3 separate regions of the Homo sapiens genome follow, and regions 1 and 2 are each linked to region 3. The links come from fine-mapping of genetic effects on gene expression. A gene starts in region 3. Each other region holds a variant in brackets. All regions are shown on one strand. Distances are between the middles of the regions.

Region 1 (5,703 bases), 31 kb before region 3:
CATGAATATACATTGCATTAGAAAACTCAGTGGTACATGGGGCTTCTAGAAATCTCTAGAGATCACATTCCTTGCCTCAAAATCATTTGGAAAGTAGAGAAGTAGTGTCAATATACTTAATTGTCAATTCTGAAGTTAATGAATTAATTTGCTAAACCTGTTTAAGAAAATTGCAAGAGCACATAAAAGATTCCTTTCTTCTTCCAAGAAAAGATAATTGCAGCTTTATTTTCTATTTCTTGAGTCAAATTCCTATATTATTTGGGCTTTTGTCCATGCAGAATGTATCATATCACATCTTCTTAGGAAGTTTAAAAAATTGCTTTATCAGTTTTTATGACATAAAATTAAGCAATTTACACTAAAGATCAAGATGTTACAAAACATTGTTTACAAAGTTTATTTAGATACATTCTTTAATTATATTCATTTATCTACTAGCAGCCACTTTATTTAATGTGATGCTCAACTCTTCAAAACTCATTCATGAGGAAATTAAAAAACAGGCTTTTTCCTGCAGATCATATGGGGCAAATAAAAAATGTTGGCATGGCCGGGCTCAGTGGCTCACGCTTGTAATCCCAGCACTTTGGGAGGCCGAGGCGGGCGGATCACGAGGTCAGGAGATCGAGACCATCCTGGCTAACACGGTGAAACCCCGTCTCTACTAAAAATACAAAAAATTAGCCGGGCGTGGTGGCGGGCGCCTGTAGTCCCAGCTACTCGGGAGGCTGAGGTAGGAGAATGGCGTGAACCCGGGAGGCGGAACTTGCAGTGAGCCGAGATTGCGCCACTGCACTCCAGCCTGGGCGACAGAGCGAGATTCCGTCTCCAAAAAAAAAAAGAGTTATGCCAACATTTTTTTTTTTTTTTGAGACGGAGTCTCGCTCTGTCGCCCAGGCTGGAGTGCAGTGGCAGACCTCTGTTCACTGAAATCTCCGCCTCCTGGGTTCAAGTGATTCTCCTGCCTCAGATTCCTGAGTAGTTGGGATTACAGGCACAAGCTATCACGCCGGGCTAATTTTTGTATTTTTAGTAGAGACGGGGTTTCATCATGTTGGCCAGGCTGATCTCAGACTCCTGACCTCAGATGATCCACCCGCCTCGGCCTCCCAGAATGCTGGGATTACAGGAGAGAGCCATCCTGCCCTGCCTGTTGGCATAACTTTGAAAGTGATCTATTAAGTTTGGTTTGGCAAACACTCGCATATGACAATGAAGATTAGAATTTTGCTTCATGTTATAGTCTTAAAATAGGCAAAAACTGCAATTTTTGTATTTTGCACCTTTTTATTATTATTACACTTTAAGTTCTAGGGTACATGTGCACAACGTGCAGATTTGTTACATAGGTATGCATGTGCCATGTTGGTGTGCTGCACCCATCAACTCATCATTTACATTAGGTATTTCTCCTAACGCTATCCCTCCCCCAGGCCTCCACCCCCCAACAGGCCCCAGTGTGTGATATTCCCCTCCCTGTGTCCATGTGTTCTCATTGTTCAACTCCCACTTATGAGTGAGAACATGCGGTGTTTGGTTTTCTGTCCTTGTGATATTTTGCTGAGAATGATGGTTTCCAGCTTCATCCATGTCCCTGCAAAGGACATGAACTCATCCTTTTTTATGGCTGCATAGTATTCCATGGTGTATATGTGCCACATTTTCCTTATCCAGTCTATTATTGATGGACATTTGGGATGGTTCCAAGTCTTTGCTATTGTGAATAGTGCCACAATAAACATATGTGTGCATGTGTCTTTGAAAATTATCTGGGCCTGGCGCGGTGGCTCACGCCTATAATCCCAGCACTTTGGGAGGCCGAGGTGGGCAGATCACCTGAGGTCAGGAGTTCGAGACCAGCCTGGCCAACATGGCGAAACCCCGTCTCTACTAATAATACAAAAATTAGCCGGGCATGGTAGCTTGTGCCTGTAATCCCAACTACTTGGGAAGCTGAGGCAGGAGAATCCCTCGAACCCGGGAGGTGGAGGTTGCAGTGGGCCAAGATCACGCCATTGCACTCCAGCCAGGGCGACAGAGCCAGACTCCGTCTCAAAATCATCATCATCATCATCTGCATTATCATTATCTTGATTCTATGTGTCAAGTTAAAGACAAGGTTCTAGTCTATTTGCAAAGGACATTAAAAATAACAATTGTTAACACAGATAATCTTTAGTCTTTGAAAAACCAAATTAGATACAATTGTTGCTTCATTTCCCCCTTTAAAATTT[T/CTT]TCCTTTAAAAAAAATCCTAATGACATTATTTATGCTAATAAGAATTTTATCGGATGTAATAAAGTTCGTCTTGAGGCAAACTGCAGAATTATCACTTAACGTCAGTGTTCTTTAAGCTTCCCGACTTTACCAACTAGCCAGTAATATGTTCAATTTTTTTAGAAGTCATTTGAAACAATTTTCAGAACCTTAATCCACCAAGATGCTTCAATACCAAAGTACCAGTACCGTCATCTGAGGCTGGAGGGTTTAAAGCTGCTCTACCTTAGGTATATTTAAGATAATATTGTTTAACCTTTATAAACGATTAATTTTATTTGGATATTTTAAAATAACACTTGAAATAGGTGTCACAAAATTCTTTCAAAACGTGAATTCTCAGAACAACCTCCCCGAATCTGGGGCTTGAAGCCTCCGCCTCACTAAAAGTAGATCCCACCATTACCCGGCAGCGCGGAGGCATACCCGGAGACTGGGACCCCCACCTCCCCCGGGGCGTGACCTGTGATCCTTGACCCGTGACCCCACCTCCTCTAGGGCGTGACCCCCTAGCCCCACCTCCTCCGGGGCGTGGCCCGGAGATAACCCTGGTAAGAGTCGCGTAGCCCGAGCCGGGCGGAACCACTGTTCGCGCTGCCGTGTTTCCGGGCGGGGACACTCAGGGCGCGACGCTTTTCTGTTACCCACAGAGGCCCGCCGCGGCTGCGCCATCCGCGGCCATGAAGTTTCGGGCCAAGATCGTGGACGGGGCCTGTCTGAACCACTTCACACGTGAGCAGGGAGGCCGGAGAGGAGCGAGGGAGGAACGGAAGGAAGCAGTGAGCGCGCGGTGGGGACCGCGCAGGAGGATCAGAACGGGGATGGGCGCCGGAAGGGGCCGCGGGAGGATGGGGCCGGGATGGGGGTGCTGGTGTAGGCCGCGGGAGGGTGGGGCCGGGAGGGCGCGGGGCGGGTCGGAGGGCACTTGTGGGGATGAAGGCGGCTTTCAAGGGACGTTTCTGAAACTTGATTCCGATCACGTGGCTTTAAAAAAAAGCGGCCACTGCTCCCATAGACGGCTTTATCAGGCATTGACATACCTTCAAGGCCCCATTCGTCCCTCCACCCTGACAGTGCCTAACCTTGCATTTAACTGTGTATTGCAGTACCTAGTAGTCAATAAATCCATGTTGAATGAATGAATGACTGGTAGGTGCCTGTTTTCTTATTTGAACACTGATGATGTGTGCTGTACATCTCCCCTAGTTTGTTGGGAGAATTGCGTGACATCAGGGGTATTAAAGTACTTTCCAGTGTGATACCAACGTTAAGTGGTTATTTTTCCACCGAGAAGTTGATGAACAAGAAATTCTGCAAAATAAGTTGGTCTCTAGGATACATAATGTGCATTTTAGTAATTCCTTATTTTAACCCCTGCTTTAGGAATCAGTAACATGATAGCCAAGCTTGCCAAAACCTGCACCCTCCGCATCAGCCCTGATAAGCTTAACTTCATCCTTTGTGACAAGCTGGCTAATGGAGGAGTGAGCATGTGGTGTGAGCTGGAACAGGTGAGCAAAAGCTTCTGAGAGGCCTGCACACTCTGCAGATTGTCACTGGAAAGATCACATATACCCTCCCTCATCCCTCATTTTTTTTCCCTTAGGAGAACTTCTTCAACGAATTTCAAATGGAGGGTGTCTCTGCAGAAAACAATGAGATTTATTTAGAGCTAACATCGGAAAACTTATCTCGAGCCTTGAAGACTGCCCAGAATGCCAGGGCTTTGAAAATCAAACTGACTAATAAACACTTTCCCTGCCTCACGGTCTCCGTGGAGCTGGTGAGTAGGAGAGTCAGGGTTTCTAACACAGAAGTCTTGGCCTCGAAGGAATAGACATAGTTAGCCTAGCCTTTTTAACAATAAATACTGTTGAAAGCTGTTTGGTTTATTTAAATTTAAAGATCTGGTCCATAACTATATTTTGCATTAGAGTCAGTTCCTCCTCATTTTAAAATTGTGTTGTTATCATATGCATTCAGCTAGAATGCTGCTTTTTCCAAGCCGTGAAACTTCCAGCCTCTCTGTTTCTTGTAGTGGTATTGTCACCTTGTCTAGAAATCATGGTTTCTCTATCCATTTTCACCTTTGACATGTTTTCTCCCCACTCCCACCCTGCCTCATCTGCTATAATAACCTTTAAATGGCCCCTCGTTCTTCAGTACACGTATGTTTTATATGCTACTGCCAGATGAATTTAGTGCACAGCTGTCCTCCAAACACACAAATACACAAACTCATGCGCATACATACAATCCAGAGTTGCTCTTCCTACTCATAGAATGAGGTTCGTATTTCCTTTTTTTTGAGACGGAGTCTCTCTATCACCCAGGCTGGAGTGCAGTGGCGCGATCTCGGCTCACTGCAACCTCCATCTCCCGGGTTCAAGCGATTCTCATGCCTCAGCCTCCTGAGTAGCTGGAATTACAGGCACCCACCACCACACCCAGCTAATTTTTGTATTTTTTTAGTAGAGTCGGGGTATCACCATATTGGCCAGGCTGGTCTCGAACTCCTGACGTCAAGTGATCCACCTACCTCGGCCTCCCAAAGTGCTGCGATTGTAGGCATGAGCCACGGCGCCCAGCCCAGCTTTTCTTCATAACTCTCAACTCTTTGCAGTCAGGCAGTTCTCAGAGCTAATTAGGGCATTTCATGTCACAGTATAAGTTTGGTATGTTTTTTCTATTGCTTAAGGAAAAGCAAGATAGTAACGTATAATACTTTTTGTCCAAAAGTGCAAGATATTTTGGTCTGTGAGTCTCATAGGAGCCCCTAGAAATAAATATAGTTTGCCTTTTAACTGTTAGAAACTGCAGCACTCTGAGTGTCCTATGCCCAAAGAATGGCCTTCTCTTGGTTGCGTCAACATAGCAGGCTTGCTTCTTTCTGCCTCACGGCTTTACATGTGCTGTTTCCCCAGCCTGAAACCCTGTCCCCTTGTTCTTGTCTTCCCATGGCTGCTGCTTCTCCTGCTTTTGGTGGTATCTGAAATGTCACCTCCTCAGTCTAAGGAAACTCCCCCACACTCACCCTGGTCTCTGTGGAGTGCTTTCTCACGGCTATAATGAGCATTTCATACAGTTTCATTTGTTTGCATTTTTATTGATCTGTTTGTTCCACTGGAACACTAAGGACCTTTTTGTCTTATCACCACACTTCCCAGTTCCTGGAAGTACCCAGAGTCTGTTCCATAAATATTGGCACCATCAATATTGGTCGAATGGCTTTTGAGTGAATAAACTGACAGCATTCCACTTAGATTTGGTATTTCAACTTTTTTGTCCCGGGTCTTCGGGTTTGTTTTGTTGTTGCTTAATATTAACAACATAAAAATATTTTTAAATTCTTTTCTTGGCAGTTATCTATGTCAAGCAGTAGCCGCATTGTGACCCATGACATCCCCATAAAGGTGATTCCTAGGA
Region 2 (5,703 bases), 74 kb after region 3:
ACTTATCTCAAAAAAAAATTTAAAAAAAGATGAATGCCTCAGGTGATGGGCAGGCAGGACAGGAGCCTGTGATATTGTGACCCTGGCACTGCCCTCTCCATCCTCTCAGCCAGGACACTGACCTCCCTGCCCTTCTGCCTGACCCCTTCTGTAGGAAGCCCCACCCTTGTCCTCCAGAGGTCCCAGACCATGGCCTTCCCTTGAGGCACCCCGACCCCTCCCTCCTGCTCCTCCTGCTGTGTGATGCCCAGCAGTGTGGAAGCTGAGGGGCAGCTGGGGCCCTTCACCCTGAGGGGGCTGTGACAGTCTGATTTGTGACTGTGGGGAGGTTCCAGGACAAGGAGAGGACACAGACACTGGTGGGGAATCTCAGTGTTGTTCGAGGAGCCCTTTGGGCTTGGTGAATGGAGAGCCCTGCAGGGCCCAGGGCTCTGGGCAGCTGGGAGTGCTGCTTACCTGTCACTTACCCTCTTCCTGGCTGTAAAGAATGTCCTTGGTACAATGAAGGCTCAGCTGTGTGTGTATGTATTGTGATATCATTCACAGTGTGTTCATTTATACTATTTTTGCTCCCTTGGACTGGATCATAGGACTTCCATTATGAATTTAGTTACCAGATAGGAAACACCTCCAAACACACTTTGTACCATGGGAGAGACACCCAGTATTATTTTGTGTTGCCAGCTGGTGAGCACTTGGACAATTACAAAGGTAAGCTATGGTGCCAGTTGGAGTCACTAGCTGTGCCAACCTACAGTTCTAAACCTTTTTTCCTGGTTTTCAAAAACTAAACTGTGTCTAGAAAATAAAATCACCTTGATCAGTTTAATGCTTTTCAGTTTAGGTTTATTATCTACCTTTTAGTGCAGAAAGAACATTAGTAATATCAATAAATTAAATCAGTTTTTTATATCTTAAATTTTAACTGAAATACACTGTAAATGATAAAATGCCAGAGAATGTTTTTTCATATATAAATTAAATATTTAAAATCAGGACATTTCTTACTTACTAATGAAATATGTCATATCTGGTGAATCTTGCATTTATTATAGATGAAACCAAATCAAGGTATCCCCCTAAGGAACAAAATGTGGGGTAAATGAATGTGAGTTAGCATGTTAGTAACATAACCTCAAAACAAAATGAATCCCACAGTGTTTACAACTTTCTGCTCTGACCCTGTTCCTGAGGTTGTGGTTACTTCTAAACCAGTCCCTTGGAACTGGCTTCAACTGAGCATAAGAGACATGCAGCCATTTAGGAAGGTATCTTGACATGTGCAAACCCAGGCTGGTTAAATAAAAATCTTGGGGGTTGGTGACTTTTTAAGTTTCTGTTTTATTTTTTAAATGCCTGGAAGATTCTGATGTGCAGGGAAGGTTGAGAGTCACTGATCTAGAAGTTTCTTTAATTTGGACTGGTAAGATTATTAGAGCCTGAAGTCTGAACTAGTTCATTCACTTGATTTATTTAAGTTTCACCTCTCCTTTAAGCCAAGCTGAAGTTCCTTCTTCTTCATGAAACTTTGCCTGTCACCTTCAGTTAGAAACACTTGTACCTTCTTCTAGATACAAATCAATTATATTGAGCAAAACTTCTGAGCAGGGCATTTTGAGATCTTCATAATCATGCTCTGCTTTGTATCACAGTGACTTTGTACTCCGTTTGATCTTGAGTTTTCTTGAAGTCAAGCTGCGTACGGGGTTATGTGAGACTTAGGCTGGGCAAATGTTCCAATAGAAGGACCTTGGGCCAGGGCCTCAGCTCTGTGTTGGAAGTAAAGATTTCTTAACATAAATTTACAGACCAAATTTCAGGTCACAGTCCCAGAGCAGTGTCAGGGTTAGTGATGTTACTCAAATCATTCACAACCACAATTTGTTTGTAATTGTCACTATCAGTACAGCCAATTCCTATGAATACCTGAACTCAAGATTTGTAAGGGGGCGAACATAAGCAAAATAAATACAATATAGTAAATACTTAATACATACCTTTTCTTGTCCCATCTTTTGCATGAGTGAGTGTGGCGCAGACTCAGCTTGTCAAAATAAGTGGAGTCTTGCCTAAAAACTGCTCCTTTGGGATTTTCTATATCCGTGCATAGGACCAACCTTATCTGTTAAGGGTATTTGTTAAAATTGCTGCCTCCAGAGCCCACCTAGTATCCACTGACTCAGGATTGTGGGGAGAAGATGGAGCACGGAATTTGCTTGTAGACGAGATGCCTGGCGCTTGGGCTGCAAGTGTCCATAGACCACATCTTGAGAAGTGTCAACCTCCAAAATTAAGTCCCCAATCCTTGGCACTGAGTTTCAGGTTGAAAATGTTGTTATAAAGATACATAGGGCACACCTGGGCGTCGATCTTTCTATGTGGTTCCTATGACGGTGCCTGTGGCCCTTAGCATCTGGCCATCACCTGCACTCTGAGCCTGATCTGCAGGTCCCCTCACCACAGCCCTGCACCCCTGTTACATGAAGGAATTCCTGGGTCCCCCAAATAGGTCTTATGTCTTTTAAAAAGTCCCCTCTGTCAGAATTCTTCACCTTTTTTCTAGGCCTGTTAAATTTCTATATATCATGTAGGAACTGGTCAAACTATAACCCCAAGCCTTGACAGTCCATTGCCGAGTTTGTATTTCACTCCCTGGGCTCCCTGTGGCTCGGAGCCTGGCCCCTTTGTCAGCACTTGTCACAGTTTTAGTCATCCAGAAGATGCTGTCTGTGTGTGAAGAAGCATCTCTGTAACCCACATGTCCAAGATGACCCTCTTCTGACATGTTCCCTCACAGTCATGGTTTCCACTGAAATCACAGATGGC[A/G]AAGGCTCCAAGGTCCAGCCGTGCACTGTGGTGGTGACTGTGCTGCCCCGCTACCATGGAAATGACTGTCTGGGCGAGGACCTGTGAGTAACACAATGCCACACAGACATCCTAGCCATTATTTGTATTTCTTCCAGAGTTGGCTCTCCCCCAAGTTGTTAACAAGCGTCAAAAACATGTCAGGAACTCATCTTCTTAAGATGGAGCAAATAAAAAAGTCCGGGTGCTATCACTGCAATCCTGCTAACTCATATTTGCATGGCATTCTTGCAGGTGCTTCAGAGCCTATAAAGCTACTTTCTTCTCCTTCTTTTTTTTTTTTTTTTTTTTTTGAGACAGAGTCTCCGCCTGTCACCCAGGCTGGAGAGTGCAGTGGCACAATCTCGGCTCACTTGCAACCTCCACCTCCCGGGTTCAAGTGATTCTCCTGCCTCAGCCTCCTGAGTAGCTGGGATTACAGGTGTGCGCCACCAAGCCTGACTAATTTTTGTATTTTTAGTAGAGATGGGGTTTCACCATGTTGGTCAGGCTGGTCTCGAACTCCTGACTTCGTGATCCACCCGCCTCGGTCTCCCAAAATGCTGGGATTACAGGTGTGAGCCACCGCGCCCAGCCTCACTTTCTTCTTTTTTAAAAACAGTTTTTAAAGATATCATTTACATTCCACATGTTCATCCATTTAAAGTATGCAACTCCTTGGTTTTAATAATTTATTGAATTATACAGCCTTCACCATAAGCTAGTTTTAGACAATTTTTCATCATCCCGTGAAAACCTTGACTTATTAGCAGTCACTCCCTTTACCCACCACCCAGCTTCCTCCCACCGGCCCCGGACAACCACAAATCTATTTAATATCTACAGGTTTGCTGATTCTGAAAATTTCATATAAATGAGATAATATAACATATGATCTTAAGTAACTGTCTTTTCACTGAGCATGTGAATGTTTTTGAGTTTCATCTATGTAGCAAAATATATTAGTACTTCATTCTTTTTTGTTGCTGAATAATATTTTATTGTATGAACATATCATATTTTATTTATTCATTAATTAGTTGATGGATGTGTGGGTTGTTTTCACTTTTTGGCTATAATGAATCACACTGCTATGAACATTTATGTGCAAGTTTTTGTGTGAGTGTGTGGTTTCATTTTCCTTGGGTAGGTAACTAGGAATGGAAACAGTGTCCTATGGTAACTACCAAACTATTTTCCGTAGTGGCTGCACCATTTTGTATTCCCACTAACGAGGTATGAGAGTTCTGGTTTCTTGATATCCTAACCAACACTGGTTATTGTCTTTTTGTTCACAGCTGTTCTAGTTAGTATGAAGTGGTATCCCATTAAGGTTTGGACTTGCGTTTCTCTAATAATTGATGAGGTTGAGCATCTTTTCATATGCTTTGTATATCTTCCTTGAAGAAATGTCTGCTTAGTACTTTACCCATTTTTATGTAGGTTATCTGTATTTTTATAATGGATAACCTAATTAAAACGTTTGTTTCTTGATTCTCAATTCTATTCCATTAGTCTGAATGTCTCTTCTCATACCAGTACTATGCTGCCTTGATTATTATAGTTTAGTAGTAAATTTTGAAACTGAAAAACCTGAGCCCACTAACTTTGTTCTTTTTAGAAGGTTGGGTCTTTCAGGTCTCTCATATTTCCATATGAGTTTTAGAATCAGCCTGTCGATTTCTGCAAAAACAAAGCAGCACAGGCATGGGACAATGGCTTTGGTGCCGGCCAGCCTCTCCAGCCTTGCTCTGGCTGGGGCAGACTGGGGCTCCAGACTCCTGCTGCAGGGGGTAGAAAAACAAAACAAAACAAAAGCTAACTGGGATTTTCATAGGGATTTGTCAAGTCTGTACATCAGTTTGGGGAGTATCTTGTATCCTATAACCCTGCTGAACATGTTTGTTAGTATTAATAGTTTTTTACCGAATTCCTTGAGATTTTCTCTATATAAGATCATGTCATCTGTCACTAGAGATAGCTTTGCTTCTTTCTTTCTAATCTGGATGCCTTCCATTTCTATTTCTTGCCTAATTCTCTTGACTAGAACCTCCATTCAACGCTGAACAGAAGTGGCAAGCGTGGAAATCCTGGTCTTCTTCTCAGTTTTAAGGAGGAAGCATTCAGTCTTTCACCACTTCATATTAATATTAGCTAGAGGTCGTTCACAGACAACCGTTATCAGATTGAGGATGTTCTCTTCTATTCCTAGTTTGTTGTGTGTGTATTTCATTATAAAAACGTATTGGATTTTGTTAAATGCTTTTCCTAGGTCTATGGAGACAATTATATGTTTTTTGTCCCTTAGTCCATTAATTTGTTACGTTTTGGATGTTTGTGTCCTCTCTAAAATTCCTGTTCAAACTATCCCCAGTGCAACAGTAGTTAAGAGGTGGTGTCTGTAGGAGGTGATTAGGCCATAAGGGTTCTGCTCTCATAAATGAAATTAGTCACCTTATAAAATGGCTGGAGGGAACTAGATAGGCCCTCTTTGGTCGTTCTGTCCCTTCTGTCATGTGAGGTCACAGCCTTCTTCCCCTCTGGAGGAGGCAGCAACAGGTGCCACCTTGGAAGCAGAGAGCAGCCTCACCAGACACTGAGCCTATTAGTGTCTTGATCTTAGACTTCCCAGACTCCAAAACTGTGAAAATAAATTTCTGTTCTTTATATATTACCCAGTCTCAGGTATTTTATTATAATAGCACAAACTAAGATACAAGTTATATAAAATTGATTGATTTTCAGATGTTGAATCACTCTTACAGTCTGGGAATAAATTCCATTTGGTCATGATGTATACATCTTTTTCTGTGTGCTGGATTTGATTTCTAGTACTTTTCTGAGGATTTTTGTGTCCAT
Region 3 (5,703 bases):
CGACGTTTTCCAGTTTGCTTGGCTGCATCCACGTCTCACCTTAAGCAGCACACCCCTCCGTCCTCGGGAGGGAAGCAGTGAGTTTGGTTCTGTGTTGTGCTCCCTGTTGTACCAGTGCAGTGCTCGGCAAACCCCAGGTGGAGGAGTATGGCCCAAGAATGTAGATGAACTGGGAACCCCTCCCTTGTCTGGATGCAGCTGCTCTGAGGAAACAATGCTGGCCGCACTGCCCGGAAAAAGGCGAGGCTGCCCAGCCCAGCGCTGGCCCCGAGGGTGTTCTGCAATGATGGAAACATTGTATAGTTTGTATCTTGGCTACTGAGCCCTTGAAATATGGCTAATGATGGAGAAGCTAAAGCTAATTCTTTTTTTTTTTTTGAGACAAGAGTTTCGCTCATTGCCCAGGCTGGAGTGCAATGGCACGAAGTTGGCTCACCACAACCTCTGCCTCCCCGGTTCAAGCGATTCTCCTGCCTCAGCCTCCTGGATAGCTGGGATTACAGGCGTGCATCACCACACCTGGCTAATTTTTTTGTATTTTTAGTAGAGACGGGGTTTCTCCAGCTAATTCTTAATTCTATTTAATTGTAAGTAACTTAAGCTCCAGTAGCTGAGAGTGGCTATGAGAGTGGCTATGAGAGTGCCTCCCACGTAGGGCAGTGCAGGCATATTTCTTCCCTCAATTATGTCACTTTCTTTGCTCCTCCTCATTTCCTGGCATCTTTGGTTAGCACTGCTGGCTTCAAAAACATCACAAACTTTAAATGTAGGCCCTGTTCTCAGGATGTCCAGCCCCACAAGGAAGGAACAGGCAGCAGCAAGGTCAGAGCATCCAGGTGTGCGTGTGGGTATGGATGCCAGCCCAGCAGGCAGGGTTGCACAGGTGTCTTTACCCAGTGGACTCTGTTTAGATTTGACAGGAAGGTGTCAGAGCAAATCACAGGGGCTTCAGAAAGAAGGGATTTTGTTCGTTTACAAACTGCAGTTTGCAGTTTATCCTTTTCTTGGTCACAGGCGCATTTGAAAGTGTATTGCTAATGAAATTGGAAAGTATGCATTTCCCCCAAATCTGAGATTTACTCACAACAAGCACAGTGGGGACAAAGCCAGAGGCACTGACAAGGCAGTGTGAGAAGAGCAGAGGTGGCAGCAGGCCCCAGGAGACAGGTGTGTTAGGTCAACAGCAGGCCCCTTAACCCACCACAGGGCTCTGGTTACTCACCTCATTGGCAGCAAAGTTCCAGAAAACACAGGATCCAAGGCCGGACACCCGTAGCTTGGTTCATCATTGTTCAAGGGGTCTGTGTTCCCATCTGAGAAAGAGCTTGTGCCTGAAAACGTTCCCACTCTTCTTGGTATCACTCTCTTCAGAGTGGAGAGAAAAAATATCTAGTGTTCTGAGTAAAACATTAAGTTTTCTAAAATCTCTGAAGGTTTAAATGTTGGTATAAAGAACTAAGACAACTAACAAGTGCTTTAAAAATATAAGAGAAAATGTTTCGTAATGGAGAGAACTCAGTCTGACCCGCCAGTTGCAAACAAGGAGAGGTGCAGGAGGTTCGGAACCAGATCATTCCTAGGTTCTGCCGTAAGACAGAGTGCGCCTAGTGTGTGCCTTGCCAGCCTTCCTTAGGAATGCTCTTCTGCTCTTGTGGAAGGTATCCTGTTCCCCAGTGCAGTTGTGGACAGTTACAGCTTTTTTTTTTTTTTTTTTTTTTTGAGACAGAGCCTCGCTCTGTTGCCCAGGCTGGAGTGTGGTGGCACGATCTCGGCTCACTGCAACCTCCGCCTCTCGGTTTCGAGCAATTCTCCTGCCTCAGCCTCCCGAGTAGCTGGGACTACAGGTGCGTGCCACCATGCCTGGCTAATTTTTGTATTTTTAGTAGAGACGGGGTTTCACTATGCTGGCCAGGCTGGTCTCGAGCTCCTGACCTCGTGATCCGCCCACCTCGACCTCCCAAAGTGTTGGGATTATAGGCGTGAGCCACCGCGCCCAGCCAACAGTTACAGCTTTTTATTCTCAGACTTCTCTCAGCTTCCATGTACAGTCTCTCCCTTGAGTAGTGATCTGTTTCAGGCAGCCACAAAGATCCCTACCTAAAACACACTTTTGTTTTGTTTTGTTTTGTTTCATTTTGTTTTTGAGGCAGAGTCTCACTCTATTGCACAGTGGTGCAATCTCGTCTCACTGCAACCTCCACCTCCTAGGTTCAAGCAATTCTCTCGCCTGAGCCTCCTGGGTAACTGGGATTACAGATGTGTGCCACCACACTTGGCTATTTTTGTATTTTTAGTAGAGACGGGGTTTCACCATATTGGCCAGGCTGGTCTCAAACTTCTGGCCTCAAGTGATCCACCCACCTTGGCCTCCCAAATTGCTGGGATTACAGACATGAGCCACCACGTCTGTCAAAAGCACACTTCTTAGGAAGGAATTTGTCTGACAGTGTTAGGAAAACAAAAGCTGTTTCTGCTTGGGAAAATGTTACTGGAGTTTGGATTTTTCCCTCTGTGTTTGATGTGTGTCCTGATAAGAGGTCACAAGTACAGAAGCTGGAAGCATTAAGCTCTATTTCTTTGTCTTCCAGAGGATGTAGGAAGAAGCTGGTCTGCTGACTGTCATACTTGTGACCAGCTTGCACAGGACATGGCCGAGGAGGCAGCCCAGAACATTTCTGATGACCAGGAAAGGTGAGTTATCACTGTTCTCAGAGGGTTTGGTAAGCTTGATTTTAAAGTATGCATTCAGAAATTTTCTTTCAAAAGTCATCACCTCTAGGATGTGGGCTCACTCTGGCACGAGTGGAGGCCCTGTACCAGGAGGGTGCATTTGGCCGGCGGGGTCAGTTCAGAGGTTGGAGTTGGTGTTGAGAATGGAGTTTTTTCCTGAAGGCTTTTGAGAAGACTCCTCCAAGCGGATGCCTTCAGCCATGAGAAGTGCTGATTGCTCTTCCTGCAAATGCAGGATACCTTCCAAGTTCGAGGACTTTCTGCTGCCTGGTAGTAGACAAAGTTAAGCTATCTGCTTGTCTGCTAGGTCCCTTGCATGGAGACCAGGAGAAACCTGGCACAGGAAGAGATCATGGGGTCTTGGCCCAGGGGTCTTATTTCTTTTTTTTTGAGACGGAGTCTCTCTCTGTTGCCCAGGCTCGAGTGCAGAGGTGCGATCTTGGCTCACTGCAAGCTCTGCCTCCTGGGTTCATGCCATTTATCCTGCCTCAGCCTCCCAAGTAGCTGGGACCACAGGCGCCCACCACCACGCCCGACTAATTTTTTGTATTTTTAGTAGAGACGGGGTTTCACTGTGTTAGCCAGGATGGTCTCGATCTCCTGACCTTGTGATCTGCCCGCCTTGGCCTCCCAAAGTACTGGGATTACAGGCATAAGCCACCGCACCCAGCCTCCATGGGTCTTATTTCTAAACCCTCTTCCCCATGCTCTGTGCGCGCCAGCACCCATGTGTTGTTGAGGCTGGGCAGCCTGTGTGCTCTGCTGTTGACTGTCTCATGGCAGTGTGACATGGTGCAAACCTCCATGCCCCCTTTCCTGGGCGTGAGGCCAGCAAGGTGACCTGCCTGTGGGATGTGGTAAGGACCCAGGTGGGTCACCGCTGTCCCCTGGCCTGGCATGATGGGAGCCTGTGCCTGCAGATCTTGCCCAGTGGGGTACCCCGCCACTGCAGGTCACTTTACCTCCTCACCCCCAGATTTCTCATCCTGAAAATCTGAGTACCCCTGTTGTCACATCTGTAAACTCCAGAGGGTCGTTATAAAAATCAGTATCCTTGATGAATGCTTGCTGTCAGCATTTCTGCCTTTGTTAGCTTACTGTCTTTGTGCCATCACCATCATTTTATCAAAGAAACCCAAAGCAAACCAGGATGAGAAAATGAGGCTGCACGTGTTGACGGGGTTGGTCACATTCATGCTTGGAAATTTCTTTGCCTTATGTCACTCACTGCTGCCAAGCATTGTCTGATTTTGGCTACAATTTTTTCCCTTATTTTTTCTGGTTACCTCATGTTTCTTTTATTCCAAATGCCCATGCTCCTGCAGACTCCCAGAGCCTTGATGTTGGCCCAATTTGACCTTCACTCTTATCAGTCAGGGAATTGCAAGGAATTACCCCTTTGCCCTTAGAAAGGAAAGAAAAGCTGAGGAGCGGAAGTCGCTGACTTGATGTTTTTTCCCCTGTATATTTATACATCTTGTACTTGCAGACCAACTAGTTCATGCACGCACTAGCCATTGTAATTGGTGTCGAGGCCCCATTTCTGAAGTCATAGCCTTTTGGGGTTTCCTGAGTCACCTAAAGCAAGACAGTGACTGATCTTGTTCATAGAAACAGAAGAGGTTTCTTGACTCTCCTGTAGCCCTCATTTCATGGAGTTAGGCCTGTAGTGTCTGTGTGTGTGTGTGTGGTATAGGACATGTGTGTGGGTGGTGTGGTGTGTGGTCTGTGTGTAGTGTGTGGTGTATGTGTGGTATGGTATGAGTGGGGTATGGTGTGTGTGTGATACATGGTGTGTGCTGTGTGATGTGTGTGTAATGTGTTGGTGTGTGTGTGGTGTTTGTGTGTATGGTGTGTTTGTGTGGTGCGTGGTGTGTGGTGTGTGCGATGTGTGTGTGGTGGGTGGGTATGTGCTGTGTGGTGTGTGTATATTGTGTGTGATGCTGTGTGGTGTGTTTGTGTGGTGTGAGTGTGGTGTGGTGTGAGTGTGTGGTGTGTGTTTGTGTGGTAGGTATTTGTCCTAATGCTCTCCCTCCCCTTGCCCCCCAGCCCCTGACAGGCCCCGAAAAACACTCACTCTTAAGGGATTCTAAGAGATCTGTCATGTAATTCAAACAAATGGCTCGACTAGTTCCCTTGAGGCACATGATGCCTCAGAGACTGTGTTTGAGCCATCAGTATCATCCTGTTCCCCGACAGTCACAGTTAACTAAGAGGAAGCCAGGTACCTCTGTGAAAATGGTGCTGATTCTGTGCCAGGGCCTGGGGACCTGCCTCCTCACAACACCAGGAAAAAGAGCCTCCCTTGTATTTAAATTATCTCCCCCTTCCATTTTTTTTATTTGAAAAGACCTCTGAAATCTCAAGGAAAATTAGCTTTGCAGCACTATCCTTGGCGCCTCTGTGAGTGGAGGACACACCTGTTGGGGATGTGTTTCTCACCTTCTGAGACAGAAAATTACTTCTCAAGGGCCAACTATGTCCCAGGAACCAGGGCTGGTGTTTTCTGTGTGTAGCACTTGGAAGTTATCCTGTTGTGGGGGTGTCTGGGAGGGTCTCGGAACTTGGTGGGTGCCAGGGCTATCTAACCTTGTGTGGGCCCAGAGTGGTGGGCAGTCTCACAGCTGTGGACTGTGGGGCGCACGTGGTGGACAGAGGTTAGGTTCGTCCTTTCCTTAATTTTATTTGCCCGCTAGATCATTGCAGAAATCCTCTAAGTCTGATCTGGTCTGGTCTGTATGATTCCAAAGTTGTCCCCTTTTCTATTATTGTTATTTTTTATTTTTTCATTTCTCTGGCCTTTGGAAGACAAGCATAGTTGAGAGTAGGCAAGGAAATCCTTGGAATTATTCAACAGTTTGAGGCCTTTGACCTAGTGACCATCTTCATCTTCAAAATAACAGCTTTTCACCTCCCTGCACACTTTCCTCAACTATAAATATTGTCCTCGTCTGCCCTCTGGTGGCGGCTTCT

Direction of the effects. Positions count from the first base shown, and alleles are read on the strand shown. Sizes are in standard deviations (SD) of each study's normalised expression. Not every link is listed here.
As copies of CTT replace T in region 1, the expression in cerebral cortex of the gene that starts at base 2,622 in region 3 goes down (moderate effect, 0.53 SD a copy in GTEx).

Evidence for each region.
Region 1: its variant is fine-mapped to the expression of PKD1L1 in cerebral cortex (GTEx, PIP 0.96).
Region 2: its variant is fine-mapped to the expression of PKD1L1 in lung (TOPMed, PIP above 0.99).

Annotation. Positions count from the first base shown.
Region 1 is chr7:47,976,774-47,982,476 of GRCh38, reverse strand. HUS1 (HUS1 checkpoint clamp component) reads left to right here and starts at 2,862. Exons shown (of 8, transcript NM_004507.4): 1 at 2,862-3,009; 2 at 3,661-3,788; 3 at 3,884-4,060; 4 at 5,640-5,703. The coding sequence starts at 2,958. LOC105375270 (a long non-coding RNA gene) reads right to left here and starts at 35. Exons shown (of 3, transcript XR_927251.3): 1 at 1-35. RefSeq lists an enhancer at 2,792-3,081 and silencers at 3,152-3,211, 3,292-3,341. The variant T/CTT (reference allele first, on the strand shown) is at 2,238.
Region 2 is chr7:47,871,105-47,876,807 of GRCh38, reverse strand. It overlaps PKD1L1 (polycystin 1 like 1, transient receptor potential channel interacting), which reads left to right. Exons shown (of 57, transcript NM_138295.5): 23 at 591-711; 24 at 2,798-2,909. Among named protein-coding and RNA genes, the nearest start is that of PKD1L1, 75 kb to the left of the region's middle. The variant A/G (reference allele first, on the strand shown) is at 2,827.
Region 3 is chr7:47,945,385-47,951,087 of GRCh38, reverse strand. PKD1L1 (polycystin 1 like 1, transient receptor potential channel interacting) reads left to right here and starts at 2,622. Exons shown (of 57, transcript NM_138295.5): 1 at 2,622-2,691. The coding sequence starts at 2,648.